7 linked regions of the Homo sapiens genome follow. The protein of the gene in region 4 purifies or fractionates together with the protein of the main gene of each other region. This does not show direct contact. Each region holds a gene or a part of one and is shown on either strand. Other genes may lie near its edges.

Evidence for each region.
Region 1: the proteins of DUOXA2 (region 4) and GPM6A purify together in Homo sapiens (affinity purification with mass spectrometry; one large-scale study listed by BioGRID and IntAct). This does not show direct contact.
Region 2: the proteins of DUOXA2 (region 4) and POLD3 purify together in Homo sapiens (affinity purification with mass spectrometry; one large-scale study listed by BioGRID and IntAct). This does not show direct contact.
Region 3: the proteins of DUOXA2 (region 4) and ROBO1 purify together in Homo sapiens (co-immunoprecipitation; one large-scale study listed by IntAct). This does not show direct contact.
Region 5: the proteins of DUOXA2 (region 4) and LMAN2L purify together in Homo sapiens (co-immunoprecipitation; 2 studies listed by BioGRID and IntAct, with this or other methods). This does not show direct contact.
Region 6: the proteins of DUOXA2 (region 4) and UFSP2 purify together in Homo sapiens (co-immunoprecipitation; 2 studies listed by BioGRID and IntAct, with this or other methods). This does not show direct contact.
Region 7: the proteins of DUOXA2 (region 4) and ADGRG1 purify together in Homo sapiens (affinity purification with mass spectrometry; one large-scale study listed by BioGRID and IntAct). This does not show direct contact.

What each region holds. Positions count from the first base shown.
Region 1 is NC_000004.12:175,801,839-175,805,931, reverse strand, and holds part of GPM6A (neuronal membrane glycoprotein M6-a), read left to right. Parts: exon of another isoform or gene 1-6; intron 7-4,093. UniProt on the Homo sapiens protein: Involved in neuronal differentiation, including differentiation and migration of neuronal stem cells. Plays a role in neuronal plasticity and is involved in neurite and filopodia outgrowth, filopodia motility and probably synapse formation.
Region 2 is NC_000011.10:74,616,256-74,620,348, reverse strand, and holds part of POLD3 (DNA polymerase delta subunit 3), read right to left. Parts: intron 1,813-4,093; coding exon 1,545-1,812; intron 333-1,544; coding exon 260-332; intron 1-259. UniProt on the Homo sapiens protein: Accessory component of both the DNA polymerase delta complex and the DNA polymerase zeta complex.
Region 3 is NC_000003.12:79,761,223-79,765,315, reverse strand, and holds part of ROBO1 (roundabout homolog 1 isoform a precursor), read left to right. Parts: intron 1-4,093. UniProt on the Homo sapiens protein: Receptor for SLIT1 and SLIT2 that mediates cellular responses to molecular guidance cues in cellular migration, including axonal navigation at the ventral midline of the neural tube and projection of axons to different regions during neuronal development.
Region 4 is NC_000015.10:45,112,979-45,117,718, reverse strand, and holds the start of DUOXA2 (dual oxidase maturation factor 2), read right to left. Parts: upstream 3,394-4,740; 5' UTR 3,114-3,393; coding exon 2,967-3,113; intron 1,921-2,966; coding exon 1,863-1,920; intron 1,596-1,862; coding exon 1,461-1,595; intron 1,255-1,460; coding exon of another isoform or gene 1,204-1,254; coding exon 990-1,203; intron 629-989; coding exon 414-628; intron 354-413; exon of another isoform or gene 205-353; coding exon of another isoform or gene 4-204; coding exon 1-3. Other genes in the region: DUOXA1 (dual oxidase maturation factor 1), read left to right, coding at 1-204; DUOX2 (dual oxidase 2 isoform 2 precursor), read left to right, coding at 4,308-4,377, 4,643-4,732. UniProt on the Homo sapiens protein: Required for the maturation and the transport from the endoplasmic reticulum to the plasma membrane of functional DUOX2. May play a role in thyroid hormone synthesis.
Region 5 is NC_000002.12:96,712,446-96,716,538, forward strand, and holds part of LMAN2L (VIP36-like protein isoform 2 precursor), read right to left. Parts: intron 695-4,093; coding exon of another isoform or gene 662-694; intron 1-661. UniProt on the Homo sapiens protein: May be involved in the regulation of export from the endoplasmic reticulum of a subset of glycoproteins. May function as a regulator of ERGIC-53.
Region 6 is NC_000004.12:185,399,037-185,402,557, forward strand, and holds the end of UFSP2 (ufm1-specific protease 2), read right to left. Parts: intron 1,688-3,521; exon of another isoform or gene 1,443-1,687; coding exon 1,356-1,442; 3' UTR 982-1,355; coding exon of another isoform or gene 981-981; 3' UTR 742-980; coding exon of another isoform or gene 534-741; 3' UTR 501-533; downstream 1-500. Other genes in the region: ANKRD37 (ankyrin repeat domain-containing protein 37), read left to right, coding at 534-741. UniProt on the Homo sapiens protein: Thiol-dependent isopeptidase that specifically cleaves UFM1, a ubiquitin-like modifier protein, from conjugated proteins, such as CD274/PD-L1, CYB5R3, DDRGK1, MRE11, RPL26/uL24, TRIP4 and RPL26/uL24.
Region 7 is NC_000016.10:57,662,256-57,666,067, reverse strand, and holds the end of ADGRG1 (adhesion G-protein coupled receptor G1 isoform b precursor), read right to left. Parts: intron 2,617-3,812; coding exon 2,486-2,616; 3' UTR 501-2,485; downstream 1-500. UniProt on the Homo sapiens protein: Adhesion G-protein coupled receptor (aGPCR) for steroid hormone 17alpha-hydroxypregnenolone (17-OH), which is involved in cell adhesion and cell-cell interactions.

The sequences.
Region 1 (4,093 bases), on a different chromosome or scaffold from region 4:
TTTGTACTGTGAACAACATAAAGAAAGAAAAACAGAAGATAACTGATTTTTTTTTCAAATTGTGAGTGGGAAATATAACTTTGGTCAAAGATGAGACTCAGTTCCTTATTGGAGTCTGTTTATAGAGTTTACTAGGGAATTAAGTTATAATATGAGGAAATCTGAGGTCAGAGAAAAAAGGAAGAATGACTGTCGGCTTTTAAATGATGTGTATTAAGAGATGTCAACATGTTAGAACATTAACTGCTGTATATATCCAGATTGATTTCCCAAAGAAAGAAAGACACTTTCTTACATTGTTTCAATTGTTTAATGTTTTTGGACTTAAATTTTTATCATATGAGAAATGATGAGTTTTACTTTACTTACCTCCATCAAAGAGAGGAATTGGATGAAATCTATCCCTGAGAATGATGCTAGAAACATAAAAGAGATTGTTCATATTGTCTCCTAAAAGGGGATGGTCATGCTTTTTCTTGGTTATCAAGTAAAAGTGAGGCAATTAAAGTATTTTGCTAATTAGCATTCTTCATTGATTTATAATAGAACTTTCAATGTCTGGGAAACTATTTTCTACATTTTTATGGTTGCAATTAATATTCCCCATTAGAAAGGTTATTTGAATGGTGAATTACCTATTCTTTCTTAACAAAAATAAAATATGGGAGAAAAACTTTACACCTGTATTTATTCCGATTGTTGTTTTATGCAACAAAGTTTAGTTAATAATTCAAATAAAGAACTAGTACACGGCCAAATTACCTTCCCCCCAAAACTTGACAGCTTTTTTTTTTGAAAAAAAAATTTTTTGAGATTCTTCTACACATTTCCTGTGTTGGTGGATATCCACTTTCATTTTGTTTTTGTTTTGTTTTGTTTTTGTTTTTTTGAGATGGAGTCTCGCTCATCGCCCAGGCTGGAGTGCAGTGGGCTATCTTGGCTCACTGCAAGCTCGACCTCCCAGGTTCACGCCATTCTCCTGCCTCAGCCTCCCGAATAGCTGGGACTACAGGCGCCCGCCACCACACCCAGCTAATTTTTTGTGTTTTTAGTAGAGACAGCATTTCACTGTGTTAGCCAGGATGGTCTCGATCTCCTGACCTCGTGATCCGCCCGCCTCTGCCTCCCAAAGTGCTGGGATTACAGGCGTGAGCCACCGAGCCCGGCCCACTTTCATTTTTAACAGCCTATACCATATCAGTTTTTCTGTTCAGTTTCGTTATTGAACATCAGAAACATAATTAAGTACTTTTACTAGCATGATTTATTTGTCAAGGAAAATATTAATAATAATAGCTAATATTTAATAATCCAGGCACTGTTCTAAGCATTTCATATGCAGTGTCTAATGTCAATATATCTTAACACTAGTTAATAAATATTGATTACAGCTTTTTAATAAATATCAAATGTTCTTTGACTTTACGGTCACACTATTTAGTCAAGGGCCATTGGGTTCAAACTCTACAGGAAACTAAGAGAAAACCTCACACAAACATCCAGAGAAAAAAAGAATTGTCATGTAACAAAATGAGGTAGTCTTCCATTTCAGTTCCAAGAAAGATTATGAGGTGGGCAGAAGGGAGAATGAGCCAAATGATTTCTCCATTTTTCTAGTTAAAAATTTATTTTTCCCACAATAAGGGCATTTAAATTCAAATTTTTGGAACCACAGACTGTACATTTGAGTGGCAGTAAGGAATTATATTTATTTTTCTTCAAACACCTTTCAATATTTCAATATTCAATAATAGAATTCATTATTAAAATAAGGATTGAGCAATGTTTGAACAATGGAACTCTTAGATATGACACTGAATGTGGTTTGTCAATTTAAAACCAACCATAGGCTTTGAGAATCTCTGTTTTAAATAGTACCAATGTATTACCAAAGCCAGATTCATTTAGTGGTTTATTGTCTCAGAGACGTTATTTTAGTTTTTCATCAAGTTAAAAAAAAAAACCATTTTACAGTGAAAAGAATGCTTTGAATATTAGTCAGAATAATTGAACTTAAAGCATTTTAAATCTCTGCTCAACCTTTCACAGTAGAAAGTTGTAATTGAGTCATAAGATCTAGAATTCAGAAACCACCCACTCAGATTGTCTCCATGAATTTTAAATATGTATAAGGGCCAGGAGTTTTTCAATTGACCATCATAATGAGTGGCCAATTGACTTTTGGTTTCCCAATCAGATGACCTGTGTTAAAGCCCTGGCTCCTTTTCTCCACCTTCATTTTCTCTGTAACTTAATCTGTGTTATTCAACCATATTTTTTTCAAAATCTCCATTTTGAGAATTAATTTTCTCTACCATTATCTTTGGGTTTAGGTCTGTTTAATGTGAGTTAGATGTAATAAAGACTAGGTAAAAGCGCCTATTACAATTCCTGGAACATACTAGGAGTTGAGTAAATGCAGATTCCTTCTCCATGTTTCCTTTCCTCTCATCTTAACACACTGTGCCCATTTAAAAAGGTGACCAAGCAATTTTCCTTGAGTCAGAGAGTCAGAATTAAAGGACTAATAACTTTTTCGAATTGTTGTAACAGTTATTTCTTAAATGTTTGTCACTTACTATATGGCATATCTTACTGTTTTTTCTTATGTATGTGTTATGCTGTAGCTCCATTCTCAAAGTACAAATTCCTGAAGGGTAAAGTTTTTATCGTTTGTTCATGAACCCAACCTGCAAAGTGCTCTGAATACAAACCCATTCATAGCTGATGATGATGATGATGATGATGATGATGATGATGATGATGAAACGAGAACAGGAGGAGAAAGAGAAGGAAGAGGGGAGGGGAAGAAAAAGAAGAGGATAAAGAGGAAGAAGAAGAGGTCAATTGTGCAGACTAAAGAAAGAATAAAACACAATTTTTCCCCTAAATAGAGACAGATCTAACAGAGCAGCTAAACCTGGCTTGGGAGAATGCAGCAAGGACTCCATTTTATGTCATTAGATTTGAATTAAAAATAATTCTTTTATTCTTTGACCTGAAATATATTCAGTAGTTTGGTAGCAGCTTTCTTGAAAATGAATAGATTTTCTTTTTTTATTATTAAAGAGCCCACACATATTTTTAGCATTGTGATTCTGGCAATGAAGTCAAATACATTAAACTGTCAGATTCAGCAAATGGTTACTGAAACTTGGAAAATTATGTCATAATATTTTATAATACGCTGTTAAAATTTAACAAAGTAGTTTACAAATTTGCTGACACTAGGCTTACTGTGTTCATTCATAAGTATTGATCAAAGAAAACAAAATTACATAAGAAATAACAGTTTGAAATCATTGAGGACAGTTTAATAAGATAAGACCTTTTCTAGGATATGTTTAGTAATGTTCAAGGTAATGAATTTAAAAAATAGCATGCAATGAGTAATCAATTTTCTTTTGCCTTCTTTTACGCTTTATTTTAGTTTTTGTATTTTAATTGGTATATAGTCTCACACAATTGGCTTATATTTTAGATGGGATCAAGACAGTATCTGAAAACAGGGCATTTGAGCTCTGGTCAATGGTATCGGAAGAGTATTTCCATCTAACCTTTCAATGCTCATCATATTCTCTCTACAATTTTGGTGTACTAAGTTTTTTGATGTATTAATCACTAATTTGTGTTTTGAGATGAACTTGTGATACCATTATTTGGTGGAATTGAGAATGAATTCTTGTTAAACAACTGAAATAACTTCATGTTTTATAGGCCAGTTGTATAGCCAGGCTGAAAAGTATAATCTTGAAGAAAGATAAGCTTATTTATTTATGTGTTACTTTTACATAGTAACTTTTTTTTGCAACACTGCACGAAAATTTAATTCACAAAGAGACAGCAAGCATGTATTTCCATGATTGATCTCTACAACACTGTTTAGCAACTTTGAACCCCCTCCAAATGATTGGGATCTGCTCATTATACTTATACGGAGTGTAGTATGCTTACCAAAGGTCTAAAAGGAGCTACTGATTTATGATACATGTGGTTCTTTCATATCATCTGTGTATCAAGAGCGACCACTATTTTACATAAATATCAAAAATATTTTTGCCCATTGTTTCTGCTAAATTGGAAGGAAACTTTG
Region 2 (4,093 bases), on a different chromosome or scaffold from region 4:
TCATTATCTTTTCAAGGCAGGAAGTTAAACCAGGAATAATAAACTGCTCTCAAAGAGATCTCAACTGAGCCTAACTCACCCATAAAGTTCTAGCTGAGTTACTTTCATCAATATATTGGGCAGTACACTGGAAATTTGTTAGAATGCAGGTAGTCTCTTGGATTGGCAAAAACTAGACAAAGTGGCTTTCACTTCAGGTATAATATGTCATTACATTAACATTCATTCGTTAGTCAAAGTGAGGTAAGAACATGCTTACTCATAGCAGCTTTTCCAAAAAAGTTGCTCATCATATTCCCTTTCCCTGGTGCCTTGTTGCCTGCTGCAGATGCCTACAAGCACAGAAAACACATATGATTTTTTGCTGGCATTTAGGCTGTTCATGAAGTAGCAGTCTCAAACAAACTCTTCTATAGCAAACTGTTGCGATGGTATAGTCTCTATATAATCATGCCAAAACGCGTAGGTGTTAGATATAAGAACAAATCTAGAACAATAATCCACACCAGACAGTAACTGGTGTTAATCTCTAAAGCTTAGTTTCTTATATATCTTATAAAATTAATTATCCATGGATATAGCTAAACTTTTCTTGAGCACATTTAAAAACTATTTAATTTGACAGAATTAAAAAAGATCAGAGGCAGTATGTACACAAAGCGGGAAAACCTAAAACATTACATTTTTAATCATCAGAAGTAGATCTGAATTCCTGGTTCCCACCATTTAGTAGCAATATGGGCTCCAGGCAAATTACTTAAGTCTAGGTTTCAGTTTTACCATATGCGAAAGGGAAATAGTTAATATCTCCCTCACAGAACTGATAAGAGGATTTAAACAAAGACACTGGCACACAGTTGAAATTCAATAAACGTTAGTGTTTTCCTCCATCCTTCTTCTTTCCCAAGACAGACGCTTGAAAATGACAGTGATCTGAATTAAATACACTTGACACTGGAAAATGACAGTGATAATAATAATAGTAACAACAATAATTATGCTTTTCTGGATTTTTAAAATAGTATCTTAATGATACTTTTCTTAAGTCAATGCCCTTGAGTTAGTTCAGATGACTGAACAATAAAAATCTAAGAGAAGCAAATAAGGCAAAAACAAAACAAAAAAACCTGCATAAAGTATAAGAATGGGAAATACACTAGGAAGGAAGGTATATGTTGCAAAGCCCAGAATATAAGATGTTCCTCAGAAAGACATATTGCAAATAAACATTTTTTTGAATGTCAACAATTCTCGAGGTGTTTTCACATGTTTTCATCTGGGTTTCACAACAATCTTGTAATGTGCACAAGGTAGGCATTACCATTTTGCAAAGGAAATCCAAGGTTTGGTGAGAATCATTATCAAAAGCAAAAGAACTCTTTCAGATAACAATATCAAGTATTAAAGGGTTCAAACTAAAGTAGAAAAATCAGAACTGAATATCAGAATCTTATATAAATAAACTACTACCACTGCAACCATTAATGCTTTTCTAGTTACCCACTCTGAGCTGCAATGAAGGGGTATCTTCAAAGAAGACTTACATTTGTTACTTCTTTAGCCTCTGTTTTCGTTTCCTTGTTGGTTTCTTGGGTTTTAGCAGCAGCTTTGGAGGCAAACATTCCCATAATTCCTTTGGGCTGCTGGGAAACCTGCTTGGATGCAGGTGGGCCATGACCATTGGTGGTCAGCTCATTGTTGGCTTGTGTCTCACTTGACATGTGAAGATGTGACTGCTCAAACTTTTTGGAAGACGAAGAGGATTCAGCAGGAGCTCTAGGGACGGCAGCTGCACATTGTATAGCACTAAATCTGGGGACAGAAATGTTACATTAAGTTAATGTCAGCATATGCATTCTTGGGTGGTTCAACAAAAAAAGAAAAAAAAAACTAATGTCAGTATAAAACTTTATTTTCAAACTCTTGCTTCTTCCACACAATACTTAACTCTAATATTGTTTAGAATCGACTTTAGAAAAATGTATGAAACTCTCTATTACATAAAGAAACAAATATTAGAGAGAAGTGAGTCACTTTTACTAGGTTATACATCTAGTTAGTAATAGATAGGATTGGAATTAGGTGCCTTCTACCACTAATTGAATATTCTTGTTTTTGATAAAAGTATTCTAATTCAAAAGAGTAGGAATGCAACCAACAATAATAAAAGATGCAGTAATTTCATTATCCTTGGGAAATGAAATAGCCTTTGTTTTTAAAGACCTTCCTCTGATAGGGCTAGATTTGCAATATTGACTGAATCAAAACTAAGCTTTAAATATTAACAAATTTCCTGGCAACTCTCTTGGCCAGAGTAAATCATGCTGTAGGGTTGGGCGCATTGGCTCACGCTTGTAATCCCAGCGGTTTGGGAACCTGAGGCGGGCGGATCGCTTAAGCCTAGGAATTTAAGATGGGCCTGGGCAACATGGTGAAACCTTGTCTCTACAAAAAATACAAAAATTAGTTGGGTGTAGTGGCGCATGCCTATAGCCCTGATTACTCAGGAGGCTGAGGTAGGAGGATCACCTGAATCCAGGAGGTCAAGGCTGCAGTGAGCCATGAGCTCATCACTCAACTCCAGCCTAGGAACAGAGTGAGATGCTGTCTCAAAATAAATAAATAAATCATGCTTTAAAACAAAGAAGAGGCCAGGTGCAGTGGCTCACGCCTGTAATCCCAGCACTTTGGGAGGCCAAGGCAGGTGGATCATGAGGTCAGGAGTTCAAGACCAGCCTGGCCAACATGGTGAAACCCCGTCTCTACTGAAAATACAAAAATTAGCTGGGCGTGGTGGCACGCGCCTGTAGTCCCAGCTACTCAGGAGGCTGAGGCAAGAGAATTGCTTGAACCCAGGAGGCAGAGGTTGCAGTGAGCCAAGATCACACTACTGCGCTCCAGCCTAGGCGACACAGCAATACTCTGTCTCAAAATGAAAAACAAAAAAAAATGGGAGAAGCTGGAAGCAGAGCCACTGGCTCCTATAACCTATAGTCCTTTACAGCCATTTGTTAATAATTTCTAATAATACTAACAGCACCGGACAAGTAAGTATGCCCAAGGCCAAGAGAAGAAAATTGGTGGAACAGCTTGTGTGGCATATTAAAGGGAACATACATCTCTCTCTAATCATTATAGAAGTGCCGTTTCACACAAATCCATAATGTAACATTCCACATTGTGAATGGGTAATTGATTTAGCCTTCTCAAAGGATTGTACTTAAAGCAAAGTTCCCCAGCTTTTTCTAACAAAGAAAAATATTTTATTTTTCCCAGTCTTGCTTATTGAGCATATGTAAGACCTCCTTGAAGTCTTATTTATCTTTTTTATTTCAGGCACCCAGCTCAAGACCTGGCACATAGAAAAGTGCTGGAAACGACATGTTGAAAGAATGACTAAGTGAATGAAAGTGAGGCTTCTGGCTTCTCTCCCTTCTTTAGTGTATCACCTTCAACTTGGGGTGGGAGATTTCTAAACTATGTGGTGATGGCAATTATCTTAAAAGATCAACCAGGCACAACTTCAAGATTAACTGCTAGAATACCTGGCCTAATGAAAAAAAAAAATCCCTGATACATCATTTCATCTCAGAAGTAACTTTAGACTGGGCAGCCCCAAAGCTAGAGTCAAAAGCTCCAAAAATCTTCCACTGATTTATTATGGTCTTCATCAGAAAACTCTGTATTTACACACATCTTTTATGCATCAGAGTTAAGAACAGACGGAAATCATTTGCTTTCACCCACTGCTCTTCCTCTCTGACCTTGCAGTGCTTCCATATACAAGGAAAAGAGTAATGTTTTATTTCACTGTCAACGTCTGAAGTTGGCCTTGAAACAACTCTTTCTCCTCTGGTCTGAATTCTACACCATAGGGTCAGGACCAGGAATTGGCAATGAGGAAGAGACCGAGTTAGGCTAGGAGTATGTCTGATGACAAGAGATCTCTGCTCAATCCTAAAATTTCAACTCTCTTCATGTCACGGCACTTCTTAAAACACACGAAATCATAAGTGAGATCTCAGTTGGCCCATAATTCTCAGGACTAAATACAAACTCATTTGTTGGAGATAAATTCACTTTTCTACTGAGG
Region 3 (4,093 bases), on a different chromosome or scaffold from region 4:
CTATACCTCTCCCATGAGGGATAAAAATTAGGATATCTAAGGAGTGGGGGCATTCACCTTATATTGTTGCCACGGTTTTTGGACTTCCTTTAGCCTTTTCGCACATATCTTCCTGCTCCATGCCTCTTCCAATTTAGCCCTGTAGGAGCTGCAGAATTGAAGCACAATGACACAGCTGCAGATCCCTGGTGGAGCCTTGCTTCAGAAAACAGCTGTTAATCACATGTTTGTTGTATTTTCCTATTTACTTCCTTTTACTTCCCTTCGCTTCCCTTAGCCTGTCCTTGAACCAGTGTTACCATCTTCTGGGCTCTACTCTATGAAGGTTAGTGATTTCCAGTGATATAGCACTGAGCTGAGCATGGGAGGAGGGGAGAGACTCAACAGCTGCCTAGGGAGTCCCAAAGGTTTAATGCCAACTTTCTCTTACCCTATACTGCACAAAATAAAGAACAAATACCCTAATATCTCCCCAAAGAGAACTGCATTGTTCTGTATAATTTTCTTTTATCTTATAACATAGTAGAATCAATTCAAATACAAAATAACATTGACCAGAGATGAAAAGGAAGCTATACACTTGTGTGCACTATTTGGAAAGTAGTGTTGTGCTTAGCTATAAAATCTCACTTTTTGGCCTTCATCTATACTTAATACATTAGGAACTACTTTTATTTAAGCAAGATTTAATGTATTACTTTCATTACAAAGCTGAGAAACTCTAGACACCACAAAGATGTGAATTTTAAATGAAAAAAAGCAAGGCAGTAAAGTAAGCCCCTGGCAGCTTGATGAATGAGCAGGTGCAATGCACCATTTGAAATGTATCTTGAGGTGAGCTTCCACCAATCTGCTGGAGAATGAGCTCCTTCTTGCCACCTAAACTCAACTGATTTTCCTCTTTCTGAGACCACAGACAAAAACATGATAGCATACAATAGGCTAGATTATGACCTGGTCACATAATCATTTATCTCTCTAAACTTGCTGTTGAAGTGAGCAATGTTACTGTTAATGTATTCATATTTGTACCTAAAATATATTAGTGCCAATTCTCCTAATTCTATAGGAAATTGAGGTCCTAGAAGGCTAACTGACTAATTCAAAACTACATAGGATAAAACTGTAGAAACAGTGTTAGTCACCGTACCTGCAATAGATATTTCACTTAATCCCCACATAACCCTTTCAAAGTAGGCTTTATTAGATGTCTACAACACATGAAGAGAATGAAGCTCAGAGAGTTTAAGGAAAATAGACATGACTATTCAGCCAAAAAGGGGCAGAGCCAGGATTAAAAACAAGTTCTTTCTCATGACAGAGTACATGCTTTTCTAGTATGTCATACTGCTGCTTTTAAGGGAGCCATTCTCTTCAGTTAACTGGACCTACCTATTTTCCCCCATATTTAAACAAGGAGTTTGATTATTCCTTGAATTTTATTTTAGTACTCATAATTTTTTAATCTCCTTGATATCTTTTTCATGTCCAAAGCATTATCTGCATTTCTCCAAGAGCAAACTTTTACAGTTACTTTCCAAGGATCTCATAAACAGTAAATAACTTTTTCAGAAAATATACCCCACCCCTATCTGCCACCCTGCCTGTATCATCTCTGGGGGTCAGAGCACTTGGGGAAAACTGAGGGGCTTTCCATTTTCTTTGAAATTTGTGCATATGTAGCCAGGATGCCTGCTAAGGATCCAGTACGTCAGTTTCAGCCAGTTGTTCTTTTCTGCCTTTCCATTTCTGCACACGTGTCTTCTCTAATCTGCAAAATTATCTTCTTCATTTGGCCAAACCCTATCCATTTGTCTAGGGTGGTTCATGTTCCTTCTCCACCATAAAATTTTTCTTATTATTCCAACCCTATTGCTGTTCCTTACCTCTGAAATTCCAAGTAATTTCCAATAACATCTGCTGTCTAATTTGGTCTTTATTCAGGGATTAAGAGGAGTAAGCTAACATTTTTTGAGCCTTTACCTTATATACTTTTACATACATTATCCATCAACTATAAATTTCTATTTCTTCATTATATTTCTGCATTTTGCCCTTATTATTTTTTCGCACTCGATAGTCACCCAGATGTTGTGATACATTTCCGGAGTTTCAGTAATGACATTCAAATTTTATATTTCTTGTCCATGCATTGCTCCTGATTGTCATACCTATATTTCCAAAGATCTAATTTCATCTCCACCTAGAAATGCATCACAAGCATTTTAAAGGAAACTGTCCTAAAGGAAAGCATTCAAAGCCACAGGTATCATCCTCCCTGCCACACTTGCTTATCTCTTTAGATTTCCAAGTGGTAAATAGCACATCATGCATCAAGACACATTCCTCTTTGCTATGTCCCTCTGCCTCATTCCCTATGATCATGTAGTGAAAAGAAAAAAAAAATTATGATTTTTCTCTTGAACTTCACCTCTTCTCCTCATGGGCCTGCCCTCCAATTCTTACTTCCACTTCCTGGGATCAGCCATTTGAAGTCATGTGCAACAAGTTTGGCGAGCTATCTGTCAGGGCAAAAATGACAATTTCTAAACTCCTTAGTCATTGAAGGTACTCTGTGATATGAAGCATGAATTCTTCTTTTCAGTCTTCAGAATTATCAATTACTATGAAAATTTACTTGCATTTTCTTAAACACTCAGGATGTTTCATTCCTCTCGGCTTTTGTGTGTGTGTGTGTGTGTGTGTTTGTCCAGAATTCTGCCCCAAATGGTTCTCACTTTCTTATTTTTTTAGCGATGTTTGAAAACACAAAACAAGTGTCACTTCTTCTGTGAAGACCTTCATGTTAAGAAAATAGGTTTAAGTATTCCTCCCTTTCTGATCATTTAATAATGCCTCTGAAATTCCATTGTAATCATTTATTCGTTTCTACTATGAGACTGCGCTATGTTCTGAATGCTGTGTCTTCTCCAAATTCATATGCTGAAATTAAAATTAGGAAGTGGGGCCTTTGGGAGATGACTAGACCATGAAAGCAGAGCCCTCAGGAATGGAATTAGTGCCCTTATAAAAGAGGTCTGAGTAAGCTCTCTTGCCCCTTCCCCCCCGACTAAACATAAGAAGATGGCTGTCTATGAAGCAGAAAGTGGGTCCTCCCCAGACACCAAATCTTCCAGCGCCTTGATATTGGACTTTCCAGCCTCTAAAACTATGAGAAAAGCATTTCTATTGTTTACAAGGCACCTATTCCATAGCACTTTGTTGTAGCACCCTAAAGATACTAAGACAGACTCTAAATTCTGTGAAGCAGTATGTCTCAAACTTTGTCCATTGAACCAAATAAATCTTAAAAGTGAAAAAAGTAGCCCTTAAAACACCAGTCCCAGGATCCCCCATCAGAATTACTACAATAGAATATATGGGGGTGGGGCACTTGAGTCCACATATTAACAGAATCTATTCCAGGTGTAACTAGGAACAGGGAGTTTATCACAACAATTGCTCTCCAATTCAGTCAGATCAATATGGCACTTAATTTAGCATTTGGGGGAGGAGCCATTTGCAAAGCTTTTTAGATCTTATTTTGTGTCTTCCCAGATTACCGTGCTTCAGAGAAAGATTTGCTTAGAGTATAGTAAATTAGATCACATGAGTCACTCTTACTGAAGTACAAGAGTCCTGCATCAGAAAGGCAGATTTGCCAAGAGCAGAATTTCAGTAATCACATGTGAACATGGCATTTAGAGTTGAGGTGCTGCTGTGCAGAGTACTTGGAGCTTTTAATGACTCTGACTTTTTATTATTATGACAAGTTTGATTAGCAGACACAAAAATGAGTGAAACAAGTTCCCTTGAATTACCACCCAGGTTAAGTAATAAAAGATTAAATGTAATATTGAAGTTTTCTGGGTACTCTTCCAGATTGAATCTCCCTTCTAAGAGGTAACCAGTGTGGTAAATTTGCTGTTATTATTTCTATGCATTTTCTCTTGAGTTTACTGTATATATTACATATTTAATTCATATATAGTATTGTCTTAAGTAAATAAAATATTAGCCTAAATTGTCAAATATTGTTTGCATTCTTGGAAATATTTTTTTATGATTAATTCAAGTTGCTTCGGGTACAGTT
Region 4 (4,740 bases):
CGCCTGTGGCGGTGGGGATCGAAAGAAAGGAGGGCATGTGGAGTCAGGGCTATGTTGCCCAGGCTGGTCTCGAACTCTGGCCTCAAACGACCTTCCTGCCTCGACCTCCCAAAGTGCTGGGATTACAGGCGTGATGCCCGGGCCTTCTTCCATCTTTTGGAGCCTACCCCTTGTGTTACCTCCCGCCACACACCTCTAATCTGAATTACATGAAACACGGCAAGACACCAAACCCTTCTGAGCCCCCCACTTTTCATCTGTAAAATGGTCATAACAGTGCCTGTTTCTGCGAACTATTGAGAGGGGCAAATAGGGTAATAGATGTGAATTCATTCTGTAAACTGGAAAGTGCACACCCGGTGTGAATCCTGTCTCCACCCTTAGCCCCCGGGGCCCATTCTCTCGGTCCTCACCGGTTGCCAGCGTGACCCAGAAGGCGGCGCCGTACTGAGTGGTGAGCGCGGAGGAGCCTAGGCGGAGCGGGCAGAGCGGCACGCTAGAGATGGAGGCCAAGGCGAAGACCCCGAAGAGCGCGAAGGCTCCGGTGGTCAGCAGTGCCAGGCCTCCGTAGAGCGGGGCCGGCGTGGAGAGCAGCACGTTGGAGAGGAGCCAGAAGCAGAACGCCACCCTGCCGGGGAGTGGGGGGACCCGCTGTGAGCGGGCTTCTCCCAGCCCACCGGGGTTCCCACAGCTGCGCTCTTCTTTATCCCTACCCCAGCGTCAAAGCCAGGGACTGGGATGGCAGCGGTGCAGGGGAATTCCCCGGGGGAGAAGCGGGCTCCTGAGGTCCAGGCGGTGGCTGGAGTCTCTCCGGATTCCGTCTGTGCAGATCTCGTGGATCTTCTAACCCGCGAGGCTGTCATGCCCACCCCGAGCGCGTCGGGTCTGGCTGCAGCTGCTCAGCGCCTCCGAGGCCTGCATCCTCCCGCTCATACGGCCCAGCTCCTGGCACACACACACGTGCACACAGCCTTCCCTCCAGCACTTACCATAGCGTGGCCGAGGCGTAGTGTCCCGCCAGGTGGTACTGGTGGTACAGGCCGCAAGGGCTACTCGGTGTGAACTTCTCCGCCAGGTAGAGCACTGGGTCCGGCAGCCCCTTCTCCAGTGCGTTCGCGTACTCCGCGGCGTAATTCTCTTTCAGACGCCAGGTGAACTGCTCGTTGTAGTCAATGGTCTCGTTCAGCTGATGCACTGGGGTCCCTGTGGGGTGAGGCGGGCTCATGGGGCTGCCCGCGGTCGGAGACCTCGCAACTAAGCGGATTCAGACAGGAAAGTGGGGGTGTGGCGCTCTCGGCGGGAGAAATGGGTTCGGTGGTGGTTGGAGAAAACGCAAATCCACGAGGACCACAAGCTATTTGAGCTTGTGGGATGTGAGAGGCCCTCCAGCTATCCCTGACACACTCACCTAACCGGGGATCTCCCAGCTCCAGGAGTTCATTTAGCCCCAGCCCCCTCACCTGTGAGTGTAATATTAATGCCCTCCAGGCCCACGAGCAGACGGACACGGGCTGTAACGCGCGCTGCGCTGAAGGCTTTGTAGGATGTGTTGGTGTTCACTGTACCCACGAACCATTCTGCACTGAAGTGCACAGCTGTAGGGAAAGGCACACGGTGGGGGTGGGATGAGGGTGGGAAAATGGAATTAGAGAGTGGTATGGGAGGTGGGACACTGCAGAGAGATGGGGACTTAGAGGTCCAATGTGGTTGCATGGTAAGGGCCAAAAAGTGGGCCCTAGAAGGAGCTGGAGAGTGGGAAGAGGGAGCAGAAAACCAACCCCAGTTCCCTATTGTCCCAGGTGCCCTCTGCCCACCTCCTTCCTCACCCCGTCCTCTCCCCATGGGCTGCACCACACACTCACCCACAATTTCTGCGCCTATGAACAGACTGAGAAGAACTCTCACCAACCAAAACCAGCGCTGCAGGAATAGGCACCCGGGTCAGGCCTGAGCCCTGCCAAACCAGAGTCCCCAAGACCACCCTTGACCCCACTTCACCTGGATCTTTAGTTATATCCAGACTTTTGAGACTAATGTTAGGCACGCTTTTCCTGCAAGTCCCTCTGGGCTACTGGCATTTCTGATATTTTGTGACCACGCACTTTCACCTCCCTAGCCCCATTTCCCATCTACCCTAACAGCACCTCCCCTCCACCCCCACTTCCTGGCACTCTTCCACCACCTTCACTCCCCTAGCTGTCTGGCGCCTGGTCCTGGTTCTGCCTCCTGGTCCAGTCACTGCTTGGTGAGGCTCAGTGAGTCCAGAAGTGCTAGGCACGCAGGGGTCACCTCCCTCAGAAGAGGGAGGCCCCAGCCTGATCTCCGAGGGGAGGAGGTGGGAATGCAGATACTCCTAGGTGCACCAGTTCCAGGGAAAGCAACACAGATTAAGATGCAGAAAAGCTGGGTCCTCCCAGAACTGAAAAATGCACAACCTAGGTTCTGGGAGAGGGGGAAAGTCTAAGACAATGCACCCAGTTGGCTCCAACTTCTAATCCAATGTGGGAGTCTCAGTCCTGAGGATGAGGCACCCATACACATGTGTCTCAACCCAGTGCAAAGGGGAACACTGCAGTCTGAGCTGCTGGCATCTGTCCTTTTGGCCTGAAGGTCATCACCCACCGGATGGGATGAGAGTGCAGCTTTAGTCCTGGGAGAGGTGGGAGGCCCTCCAGCACAAGAAGCCTAGACTGTTCCTCAGGATTACTGGACTGGGTGCCCATTCTCTGCAGCAGCCTTCCCAAGGACCCAGCTGGGGTCCTTCTCCAGGATATCCTGGATGGGGAGCTCTCCCTATCCTTGGAAAGGGGTGCTTGCTGCACCAGACTCCTGACTTCACTCCACCTGAGCCTCAATTCGACTATTCATGGAGGCTCTTGTACAGTCTTACCTGTCCTGGGTCCCTCAGGAGACAATCTGCCCATGAGCCTTCCCCCACTCTACCTGCACTATGAGGACACCCTTACCGAGTGGCCACGGATCCCCGGCAAGATGAGCAGGAAGCTTGCTGCTAGAGCCAAAAACACTAGAATAACGATGAGCAGTGGAACGCTGAAGCCTGCGGCATGCCGGGGCTGGGGGTAAAAAGGCAGTACGCCGTTCCACAGGGTCATGCTGCACGCCGGCCGAGTGCTGCACGCAGGCGGGCAGGCAAGCCAGCAAGCTGGGGCTGCCTGGACGCGGGAGAGCGCGTCCTTGGCGTCTCTTTGCGTACAAGGCTGGGACCGAGTGGGCTGGTGAAGTCTGAGTCCTGCACCTCTCCGTTAAGGAAGCGTGGAGGTGGGCTGCTCTCAACGCTCTGGGGTTGGTACCGACAGAGTTTTTCTAGCCGGCGAGCGAAACTATTTCTCACTGTCTGTAGCCGTTACTTTCCTGGTTCTGCGGGTTGGCGCTGAGTTTGGAAGTCGCGCGGGACCCCTTTTATAGCAGCGTGGGCGACGTGCCACACGGGTGTCCCAGCCCAGGGGCTGGTCTGAGCTGGAAGAGGTTGTGCAAATAAGGGCCCCACCTCCACGGCAGGAGGGTGAGCCCTAGGTCCAGATGCTCACACTGGCGCAGGTCTGTCCTGAGCCGACACCTGCACAGTGGCGAGACCAAGGACCCAGAGAGAAAGGTGAGAGTGCAGCCGGGGAGGCTGAGGATCGGCGGAGCTGGAAGAGTGAGGGTGAAGGCAAGAAGTAGAGCACAGAAGCAAAGATTTTAAGAGGAAAGAAGACATCTGAACCCAACACCACCCTAAACCACAGGTTAGACCAGAGTTTGGGATCTGACCCTAGCCCTCGCCCATCATGCACAGGCGTTCATTGCAGAAGGGGAGTTTATTGGGGAAGGGGGGATTCATTGTGGAAGGGTGCTGCAGTCCCTCACTCCCAGGTCAGTAACCTTTTTCCCTTCCCTGCCTCCTGGAGGAGAAGCGGAGCCTGACGGATCGGGGGCGGGTGGAGGTGAAACATTGGAGACATTGGGCACACCCTGGGAGGCTTGACCAGTCCTGCCCTGGACTGACATGCCCCAGAAGACTCCTGCCCAGTGGGTTCCTATGGTCGGGGGTTAACTCTCTGATGGGGTGGCGGATGGGGAACAGTGTCAATGCCTCCAGAGCTGCCAATTGTCCTGGAAAGAGTGGCGTTTGGATGAAGGTCCTCGGTGATGCTTCTAACAGCTACCTTCCAGAAGTGGAAACAGCTGGTGCTCCTCCTCCAGTACTAGCTGTAGGAACAAGAGGGGAGGCATAGAGGACGCCCTAACAGTGGCTTTCGCATACCACCTACCACCCCCACCCTCACCCCGCAGGCTGCAGGGTTGGCATGCTCCGTGCAAGACCAGAGGCACTGATGCTCCTGGGAGCTCTTCTGACTGGATCCCTGGGTCCATCGGGCAAGTATCAGGCTCCTCTAGCGGCGGGGTGTTCCCCAGGATCCCTGGGAGGTGGGGCGGGGAGAGGTGCGGCAAGCGGCTCCCTGAGACTGGAAGGTCATTTCGCCGTGCAGCTCAGCGGGATGGGAAACTTCCCAGTGCGGCCCGACACTTGGGTCCGGTTAGGGGCGCTCCGCGAGCTGGGGAAGGACTGGCCAAGGCCTTCGTTGCTCGGGAGGGGTAGCTGGGAGCGTAGTGCTGAGGAGGCCCTTCTCTGTGCCCACAGGCAGTCAGGACGCACTCTCACTGCCCTGGGAAGTGCAGCGCTATGACGGCTGGTTTAACAACCTGAGGCACCACGAGCGTGGTGCTGTTGGTGCGTTC
Region 5 (4,093 bases), on a different chromosome or scaffold from region 4:
CTAAACTTCAGCCCCATCTCCTCCCAACCATGGTTCTGCACACAGCGGGTATTCTGAAAATACCTGTTTGAGCAGGGGAATCTTTCCATTCAGGATAGCTCTTTTCAATTCTAAAATTCTATAAGCATATAAGGCTAAATGGATTAGAACTCAGAACATGGAACGGGGTTGCTGGATGGGCTCAGCCAGCCACAATGACTGTCCTTAGTCAAAAGACTTTCCAGCCCACTTAAGCCTCCTCCACACGTAACTTCTCCGAATAATAATAAGAGGGCAAGGTTCTCCCTTAACAGGGAGAAAATTGCAAGTTTTCCCATAAGCCACTCATTTTCCCATCTATTTCAGGGGCCCTCTCTCCCCAGTAGAGTTGTAGGAGCAATTCTTCCTTAGAAATGGCGAACTAATCATTCCAGAACAAGCCCAATGCCAAGGCAGTGCAAAAAGGCAGGGTAGTGAGGTGGTGAAGGGGTAACATGAGGCATGCCACTCCTTTGGGGAGTATTTGTCCCTTTGTCCCAAATGGTTAACATGCAAGATGGAGATGCAGTCGAGACCAGAGACCGGGGACTCCTGAGACAACCACATGGACTTGAAACAGCAACAAATGTTGGATGGACACATGGGAATGAGGGATGCTCATGATGAGCCAAGAACTGAGTACCTGGACTCCTGGAGAATATCGCCTCTTCTGGGCCTGAGAGGGTCCAGCAGGTTATGATAAAAACAAGAGAGGGCACAGAAGACAGGAGACCAAGTCAGAAAGACACAGCCACAGAAGAGCTATGACCCAGCTGTGATGGATGAACAAACCAACTTAAATCCCCAAACAGAATTTTAGGGTCCCTGAAGGGCATCCGTGAAGTCTTTGCACCCTCAAGATGATAGGCAAAACCATATGCACGGGTGCTTGTACATTTTTCTGAGGAGAGGGTCTGTTACTATATCAGATTCTCAAAGGGGTCCCCTAGGAAGACCGCTCTAACCCATAGAGGGTCCTGAAGCTTTTGGAAGGCACTTTATAAAACACATAGCAGTACGCTGTCCAGGCACGCCGCACTTATGTCTCTGGGAGTCAGTCTCAAGTTTGTCTGTACCCAGCCTACTGTATTTCTATAGCAAGGGGAAAGAGGAGACAACAGGGCTAAATTCTTCCAAATTCAAGACATCCTTTACTATCCAGGATCTCAGGAAACAGCTCCTGCCCAGAAGACCAAAATCTTGCCACTTGAGAGACTATGAAACTAACTCTAATCCAAAGGGATCACTTACCCTCTAACTGAGCCTTATGGTCATATATTCCCAAATAACTATTGTCATTCTAACCTACCACACATAGGCAAGGAAGAAGCTCCATGGAGGCATTGCAGAATGACAGATTTAGAAAATCATCAGGCGTGAGGGTATTAAGCTCTGCTCCAGCAAACAGCTGCAGTTCTAAGCCATTAGCGACAAGAGGTACCTACACAAGCTCAGCTCAGCTCTGCCCTGTGGGACAGGTAGGCGAGGGTACAGAACTCAAACCCTTCACTCCTTTAATACGGTGAACACCTACTACAAGCCAGGTACTGTTCCAGATGCTGAGGGTCCAAAGAGAAACAAGACAGACAGGAATGGAATTAAGATCAGAGTGGAAGAAACAAACAACAAAGAAGCAAATAAAATTATTTCAGATAGTGAAAAATGCTATAAGGAAAATAAAATAGGTAATACAAGGGATGGGCAAGGGAACCTCTCCCTGAGGAGGCAATATCTGAGCTGAGACTCAAGTAATTAGAGGGAGTCCACCAAAAGATCTGAGGGCACAAGAAGCATGAGGGTGGCACATTCAAGGAACTGGAAACAGATCAGTCAGAATCACAGCTTGTGAGAAGAGGCTGCCATGAGGCAAGGCAGCACCCACGGCACTGGGCTCCATGGGCCACAGCCAGGAGTCCGAGGCTGCAGTGCAGATCCCCTGCCGTCCTCCTCTTAACACCACTGGCAGAATTCATACAGGACACAGAAAGGCATGACATCAATCCGTGGATGATTAAACTGGCATGAAGTTAATCTTCAACAACTACCATTTAGAACAAGGAAATGGTGAGCATGTTATCAAGCAGTTTACAGAAACTGGCATCTGAGAGTATGCTCATAATTTCAGTGACAATTAAGAAAAAGGGATTAAAAATGCCCTGTGGAGCTCTGATGAGCCCAAGGCTTCCTTCACTCATCACCTCTAGTAACCCTGATTAGAAGTTTAAGTTGCAACTTTAAAGAGATAGCAATCTCCTATGTTAGCTTGCTTAGAAAATAAACAAATAATAAAGAGACAGCAATCCTTAGCCTAAGGGTGCCTTACTCTTCCCAAGGCTGGTGTGGACCCAGTTCCAGGTAACAGCCAGAGGCATGCTGGACCTTGGGAGCACCTGAAGGAGCTTGTTAACTGCACGTATACATGGGTCCCTCAGTCAAAGAGTCTCATTCGTATGGCTAGAGTGGGGTGCAGGATTGTTTTTTGTTTGTTTTTTTGAGATGGAGTCTCACTCTGTCACCCAGGCTGGAGTGCAGTGGCGAAATCTTGGCTCACTGCAACCTCCACCTCCTGGGTTCAAGCAATTCTCCTGCCTCAGCCTTATGAGTAGGTGGGATTACAGGCGCTCGCCACCATGCCCAGCTAATTTTTGTATTTTTAGTAGAGATGGGGTTTCACCATGTTGGTCAGGCTGGTCTCGAACTCCTGATCTCGTGATCTGCCCGTCTTGGCCTCCCAAAGTGCTGGGATTACAGGCGTGAGCCACCGCACCCAGCCAGGATTATGTATTTTTAAAAAGCACCACAGAAGGCTGTGATGTGCAGCCAAATTGAAGAAACGCTGCACCAGACAGGGAGCCTCACAGCTTTGCAACTACAGAGAATCTGTCTACTTCGGCAACACGAGTTGGCCTTCAACTTTTAACCTCACATTAGTGTAAGTCACTAAATGCCATCTTATTTTCTACGCCTAGTCAAGAGTTCCTGGAAGTATTTCTTGGATAACCACTAATTTCACACAGGAGCAATTTTGTTTTTCCCCTAGAAAGCACTCTGTAAGTTAGAACCAAAGATTGAAGAATCACACTGGTTCAGGCAAGGTGGTAGTTTTATTCCTAATTTAAGAGTCACCAGAAAGGAGAAACTCTCACCTGTTTTATCATCCAAAGGACTGTTGTTTAAAGGGTGGAGAAATGTTTTCAACTTTTTGTACTACAAGACTACTTTTAAAAAAGTGTTTTTTGAAGACCTCTACGGGATAACTGTATCTTCAGCATATTTCGATGGAAAAGACACCCATTAGCTTGTGGATTTATGGATTCTAGGCTAAAATTCCAAATGGCCTCTGTAATTAGGGAGACCTGAGTTCTAACTGCAGTTATGTCACTTATAGCTGTGTAACCCTTCGGTGGATTACATCACCTCTTTGAGATTCTATTTCCTCACTGTAAACAGAACAATACAAAGCTCACAGGGTTCATTATGAAGATGAAATGAGATATGCGAAGCATTTAGTACAATGTCTTGGTGTTCAGGAGGGAGTCAATAAACATTCAATCAGTGACTAGTGTATTTCTAGATACAAATATCGTTCACAGGTACTCATATATATATAAACACAAAGCCAAACATACATCTTCTAAAGCACGAATTCCCAGACCACTGGCTGTGATCAACCATTAATATTTCCAAAAATATTTTGGAGAGTATTAGATTTGGCTTCTTTTTATTGCCTACTAAAAATATTAAAATACAATAATGACAGAACAATCATCTATAATAAACATCATTTTACAAAGGGACACTTTAACACCAAAAGATGAGAGAGAACAATGTAATTTCATAATGAAACAACTGAATACATTTAGCACTTAAGAAAAAGAACTTCATTATTATGATTCTTGCACCAGTGAAAACTCTGTTACCACACAACTGGAGTTCATACACTGGCATCTAGGAGCCACTCTTTTAGAGCAGTGTTTCCATCTCAAACCATACCATTGTCTAGTAAGCTGACCATTTGCTTTTGGGAACCCAGATGTGAAGAAGTGAAGGAGGGGAGAGGAAGAGAGAACAGAAC
Region 6 (3,521 bases), on a different chromosome or scaffold from region 4:
GAAAACAGTGGCTTCACATTTTATGTTTTCTTGGATTAAACTAATCAGACTCCTGAAGCTTAGTTACATGTGCTTTTAAAAATAATGCTTGCGTAATTGATAATTTAGTGTTAATCATTTAAATGTTAACTTAGGTTGTTGGTGCTATCGAATAATACTCAGTTCGAGTAAGTAAAAAGTCAGATCCTGAGCAATCAGAGGTGCAATTTTGTTCATTATGACTGTATTCTACTTCAGTTTCGGTTCAGGAAAACCCATTCTATAGTTCCCATTGACTACCTTTGGGTACTCATACACTGTATTAAACATCAGATAATTCTAACATTCATTCAGAACTGGAATGCCCGCTCTATGCTGGATTCTGTTAGTTGCTGAGGATACAATAGTGACCAAAAATGCAATTTCCTTATGCATCCTTTACCTCTTCTGTTCTGCAACCAACATTTGTATGAGCCCAAAATTCCCTTGTAAGATATAAAAAAAAAGACTTAAGTTCAATGTTTCATTTCACTCCGTTTTTATCCTGTTTTCAGTTTATGTAATAAGAACGGGCAAACAGCTGAAGATCTCGCTTGGTCATGTGGATTTCCAGACTGTGCCAAGTTTCTTACAACAATTAAATGTATGCAGACAATAAAAGCAAGTGAACACCCTGACAGGAATGATTGTGTTGCCGTGCTCAGACAGAAACGGAGTCTCGGAAGTGTAGAAAATACCAGTGGGAAAAGGAAGTGCTGGTAAGTAACTCAGAGCTGCTGCTTTTTTCCTCCCGCAGTGATCTCTTGTTTGCATAGCATTTATTATTCCATTTAATACTGACACTCGTATTTCTAGTAGTATTGTTTCATTCTCATTAACATTTTAGTACTGGTTATACTTACCAGAGTCTAGAGACCAAAAATGGGACTGCATGGTGGAAGTTTGGGGATAAAACTCTTTTTAAAAAAAAGTTTTTAATGTTAACGTGTTTTTAAAAACAGATGTCACGTGGGTTATGAAGAAGTCTGAAGAACGCCTTCATTTCATGCAAATCTATAAGCTCCTGCTTTTGGCTTTACCATATGTTGTGTCTAATCTCCTTCTGAGAAGGACGAAAAACTTTCTTCCAAGTGAAGATCCATTTAAGAACACATGTATTTACATGCCTATAATATGCTGGTTGTGTATGCTTTGTCTTTTAAGTTATTAAAGGAACGTCTAAAAAATACATTCTCCGTGCAGTATTTACAACCTTTGAAAAAGGTCATAATTTAAATCGTCAAACTAGAACCAGGATTTAATGTGAAAAATTAAACTGATTCTTTATTCACAAATTTATAATACCACTCTACTGCAGTCTTTGACTCCAAGATATTTTAAATCATATTTGGTCGCTGAGGAAGACATAAGTTATAGTATGCATCCTTGTTCCAAAAATCTGGGCCCTTCCATCCGCACCAGCCCTGGATAGAGAAGACGGGAAAGGAAAGCCTTTTACAAAGTTACAAGATTATGTCATGGAAATCGTGACATCAGGCTCTGTCAGCAGGACCTTGGAATAAGACTCTAAATGGCTTTATCATTCAAGGATTTGAATTCCTACTAGCATAGAAAAGTAACGTATCTTACCCTTTAAGGTAGGTTTTTGAACTTTTAATTCTATGTATGTAATTCATCATAAAAATCATTAAAAAAAATTTACCTGTAACTGTTATTCCAGATACCACACTTTACTGATTCTGAGATGTATAGTTTTACCACTTGCAACTGATAGCATGTGACAATTGAACTAGCAATCTGTTTTTCTTAATAGTCCATAAAGGACTGTAAGAGACCATTCAGTGGCATCTTAGGATTGAAGTACTGTAGTGAGAAACCTCAGCTTGCCCCCTGCCTGGCACTCTGTGCCCTTTCATTTTCAAATTCCAGGTGTTACTCAATTCTACTTCCCATGTTTCATGTCAGTATTAATCCTTTTTGCCAGCAGAGAAAATTACTTTCAAGCAAAATCTCATTTAGAGTATGAAAATTTCTCAGATTTCTCCTAGGGCCACTGAGTTATTTTATTAAAGAAGAAAACTTAAAAGCCAATAACTGGTCTGTATTATATGATTCTTAAATGCTTTGAGAAATCCTTGCAAGGAGGCTGAGACTCTGAAAATACCATGAAGTGAGTGACAAGCAGCGGTCTGACTCCCTCCTAATAAGATACACGTTGTCAAAAAACAAGATAAAAGTAAAAAATCCTCTACCAGTCCTAGGTAATCCCCCACTCTCCCTAGGTAACCAGCATTCTATTAATCATCTCATTTTTTCAGCAAAACTTTCTCTATTAATTTAATGTCCTAAAATCTGTTCTCTTAACAGACAGAGAAAAAAGGCTCATTCTGTTTTAACCTTTTTTTGATCCTTTTACACATGAAGGCCTTGTCCAGGTAACCAGATCCAGATTTTTTAAAGGAGAAATTGGTAGAGAGGGTGTCAGAATGGGATTGCATAGGGACATAGTGCATAGGACATGCTTCTTTCCTGTGAGATGACCAGCATGGGAACTTCAAACAGGAAAGCACCACAAGAAGGCAAAGAGGTCAGGCAGAGATGGAACTCTCCTCTGGCCTCCTGGGTTCCTGGAGTCAAGTGAATCAATAGTTTTAATGGCAGGACCTTGGCTGCACAGTTTCTTGTGTATACAAATAGAGCAAGGAGGTTTCTGCTGTTGAAAAGTTCTATAGAAATAGAACTAGCAAAGATGGAGATTGCAATTCTCAGAGAAAGAAATCAGGGACAATCCCTTACTCTAATTGTTCAGAAACCTTACCTAGATAATGCCATGTAGTGCAGAGCCCCTTGAGTCAACCAGAAAAGAGAAATTTGATGATGAAAATAATTAAGGCTTCTCCCTGCCTTTAAGAAAAAATCGAAATGCCTGGTTCACAAAGACCACCCTTTCTGACTGAGCTTGGTGTGTCCTTCCAGCCTCACCTCTTCGCCTAGCTCTGGACGCACTGATCTACCTGCAGTGCGGCTTTCACTGTTTCTACAAGGCAGGGGCCACCACAGCACCAGCCTCGTAGAAGCACCTGAGATACCATTTTTTTTTTCTCGAGAGTCCTTTTTGCACTCTCCTTCTCTGTCCTACCCTAAAGGTTTTAGCTCCCGAAAAACCTCGTGTAATACTAGTGCTTAGGACAGTGCCTGGCACTTGTTAGGTACTTTAATAAATACTGAATGGAATGAACACCTTGCTACAGAACAAGAATATTGCTACTATATTCAGTAAGATACATGCACCAGTCAAAAAACCTTTTATAGACTTCAAATTCCAAATGCTGTGAAAGAGAAAAGGAAAAAAAAACACTTAAAACTGTAACAACACATTTCTATCCTATTAGTGTTTATACCCTTATCATAAACAAAAGACTTCAGTAAACTGAGGATATAACAGAGTTGGACTACACACATTAAAAACTTTTTTTTGAGCTGGAATTTCACTCCTGTTGCCCAGGCTGGGGTGCAATGGCGCCATCTCAGCTCACTGCAAC
Region 7 (3,812 bases), on a different chromosome or scaffold from region 4:
AGGCTTGGGAAGGTTTGGCCTCTGTCCTTTGGAGCTGGGGGCATAAGAGGAGCCCCCCACCTGCAGAAAGGTGGGGACAGAGGTCAGTGGAGGGAGTGGAGGGGGTGGAGGGAGGGCTGGGAGAGCAGCAGGGCACAGGGGTTCTTGGTCCCTGCAGGTCCCAAGATCCCACATTCACGCCCCTCAGAGGGCACTGCCAGTCTAGACCCAGCTGCCTCACACCCACCTTGTCCAATCCAAGACTCTGAGCCTCTTCCCCTGCTGGGCATCCCCCTAGAGTGGCCAGGGGAGGAGGGAGGAGCCTGCAGAAGGGAGAGAGTGGACTGTGGGCCTTGGGGAGGACTTTGGCTGCACTGGGACCTCTTACCTGAACACAGTAGCAATGATCCGTTGTGACTGCCCTCATCACAGGGAAGATGGGAACCTGCGTGATCTGCCTCACCTGGGCCTTAGGAGCGGGAGGAGAGATTGATTTGGTGGAACAAGGTTAAAGGCAGGGATGGGAGAGAAGTCCAGTGATTTAATTCTTGCAGCCCACCTGCTGCAGAGTGATCAGTAAACTGGTTGCATAAATCCCAGGACCAGGCAGCTTTTGACTGTAATCTCTTTGGCCAGAAAATGTTTTGGATTCGCCAAAATTTTAAAATCAGGGGATGTCAAACCACAGTCTGGATTTCCCATTTCTCATAAAAGGCAGGTGGTCTGGCTACATGGGCCCTCATCCCTGCAAGGTAGTGACCAGCTGGAGCTGATGAGCAGCCACGCTCTCAGCATGGGGTTGGGAGTCTCCAGTTCGCCACAGGCCCCACCACTCCCCATTGCCTCCCCAGCACAGACACCAAGTTGCCATTTATCTTCCCCTGTGCCCTGGTTGATGAGGTTTCCAGCAGTCGATTTTTTTTTTTTCTTCACACACAGCCCTCTTCTCTCTTTCATGTTTCCTGATTGGCCCCAAGGTATTTGTATTAGTATCAGTGACTCTTTCAATAGAAGCACAGGAAAAAGCTCAGAAGGAAATGACCCAAAATGCTTACGCCAGTTTGCTAGGTGATTACAACAGCTGATTTTTATTTTTCTTCTTGATTCTCTTCTACAGTTTCCAAATTCTCTACAATGAACATGTACTTCTTTTTAATATCAAAAGACAAAAGAATTGGTACGTAAAAAGAACATCCTTCCCATCTTCAAGGTCAAGATTGAACGCTGACTCCTGCAGGAAGTCTTCCAGGATTCCCAGGCAGGAATGATGGCTCCCTGTCCCTGTAGCTCCAGGAGTTCTTGCTTCACGCACGCCTCACATACCAGACTGAATGTTGGCAGGAGGAGTGACCAGGTCGGTCATCTGTGTCCCTACCACCTACAACAGGCCAGCAATCTACCCGTGTGTGTTTGTTGGACAGAATTAACCATGATGGGCGGCCGAGGGCGCCTGGAGCTATTTGGGGGCTTGGAGAGAACCTCTTAGGAGAGTGTCAGGCCCTAGGCCAGTGTCACCAGAGGAGGTCAGTCTCAGTCCTTGGAGTGGTGGGATGGAAACCAGACGGGACTGGCATGGTCCACAGTTCTTGCCACAAGAGGGCTTCAGGAGAGGCTGAGGGCCCCTCTGAGGCGTGTGCTTGGTCAGGGTGAGCAAGGGCAATGCAGCTCATACAAAGGCCCAGATGGACAGAGGGACCTAGCCCAGCCCACGCATCGGTACCGAGCCTGGCTCAGGGGCAGGCCGAGGCTTGTGCAGTAGACAAACATTTACAGCAGACACCAGGCAGCTCCTGGAAACCACTCCCCAAAAAACAGCATTGGAATCGGGGACCCCCAGCTGTGAACGAAGGAGCAAGGAGGCCCTGGGAGAGGAGGAGAACCCCAGGGAAGATGGAGGGAGGACTGGGGGGCTGAGGGAGGGAGGGGGCCTGGGCTCAGAGGTAGGCGAGCTGCTGCTGTGCTCCTGGCAAAGGGCCTCTCCTCCGCCAGGGCTCTGGCCCTGAAGGTCTGCCCTGGGCCCCATTCGCCCTGGGTGCCACCTGAGGTTAAAATGACAGAGGATGCAGAGTGCCCTCAGGGTGACCACGAGAGACAGAGCAACTGGAGCCACATTTCTGTCCCAGGCAGGGGCACAGGATTAAGGATGTGCCAGACCCTCAAGATCCAAGGCCTGGCCCCCAGCAATGAGGGCTGGGCCCAGGGGTTGTAAGGAGAGACCAGGCCTCCAGCTGGGTTGGGACAGATGTGGGGACAGTACCCTAGGCAGCATGGCGGCGCACTTCTGAGTCCCGTGGGAGCTGAGTGAGAGCCGAGTAGTCCCCAAGGCCAATTCAAAAGCCCAGCCCGGGAGTCCGTCCACCATGGCAACGGCCCATCTCTCCATGGTCGTTGGGCTTTCCAAAGTCTGCGGCTGACTGGCCTGGGGCTGGGCCGGGCTCGGGGGCCACAGGCAGTGTGCGACGAGGCCGAATCTCTGCTTCATCACATGGGCAGGTGGGCTGGAGGCCTAGATGCGGCTGGACGAGGTGCTGCCCGAGCTGATGGGGAGCCTGGCGCTGTCTGAGTTGCTCTTCAGAGGGGAGGGGCCACCCCGGGCCTGCAGCCGCATGGACCAGTACCAGATGAAGATGAGGAAGCCTGCGGGCAGTGAGGGCACGGGGTCAGCAGGTGGGGGAGCCCCACCCCATCCCTCCTCCTCCCTCCCCAGCCATTGTGACTCGGGTCTGCCCCACCTCTCCATAGTGTTTGCCAAGCACGTGCTGTCGGGCACCCATGAGACCCAGCGAGCACCTCCTATGAGCCGGGCACTGTGCTGCGTCCCCGTGTGGCCTCTCACTGTCACAAACTTCCTAGGCCCATCCTATTCATTACTATTCTCTTTTGTAAACAAGGAAACTGAGGCCCAGGAGGCTCAGGTAAAGGGACGTGGCTGAGCCAGGGCTCAAACTGTGGTGAACAGGCTCTGAAGTCCACCCACTTAAGCACTGTGAGATTTTGCACCCCTCAAATTAATAGCACTATGATGTATCCACAGCTTAGTAAATGTCTGTGTGAATGTATGGGCCTCACTTACAATCCTGAGTCCCCTCATCTCACAGGCAGGAATGAAGGCTTGAATGTTAAATAACCGAAATGTGGTAACATCTCCCCACCACCAACTCCCAGCTCCCATTCTAGGGTGACCCTGTATGGGAGGCTGGCCTTGAACCCCATGAGAGCCCCTGGGCCTGGCCATACAACCCCCTTCCATTCTGCACGGCCAGGAACAGAGGGGTGTGCATGCCTGTGTGTGCACCTCAATGTACACACACAGGTACATGCACAGAAAGGGACCCTGTTGGCATCAAGCCAGAGCCATCATGACCCTGCCCTGGGATCCCACCTCTCCGCCCCGACCCGCCGCCATCTGGCCACGCTCTCCCTCACTGTCCTTCCTACACACAACCGGTTCCAACCTCAGGATCTTTGTTCTTGCCTCTCCCTCTGCCTGGAGCTTCCTTCCCCTAGACCAGGGCTCCTGATCCTATCATGTGCACGTGACCCCTTGGGCATTTGTGAAAATGCAGATTCTGATGTGGCAGGGCCCGGGTGGCCCAGAGGCTGCGTTTCCAAAAAGCTCCTAACAACGCTGCTGCTGCTGGTCTGTGGACCGCGCCTGGAGTAGGGAGGCCCCCCCATCTCTCCATGGGGGGATCCTTCTCTTGTCTTCACACGTCTCATATCCAGAGAGGCCTCCCTGGCCACCCTTCTTAGGGTGTCCCCCACCCCAGCCGAGGCCCTGTGCAGCACGTGCTCACGACGATGTCCCTACTATCTGGGACCACCTTTGATGG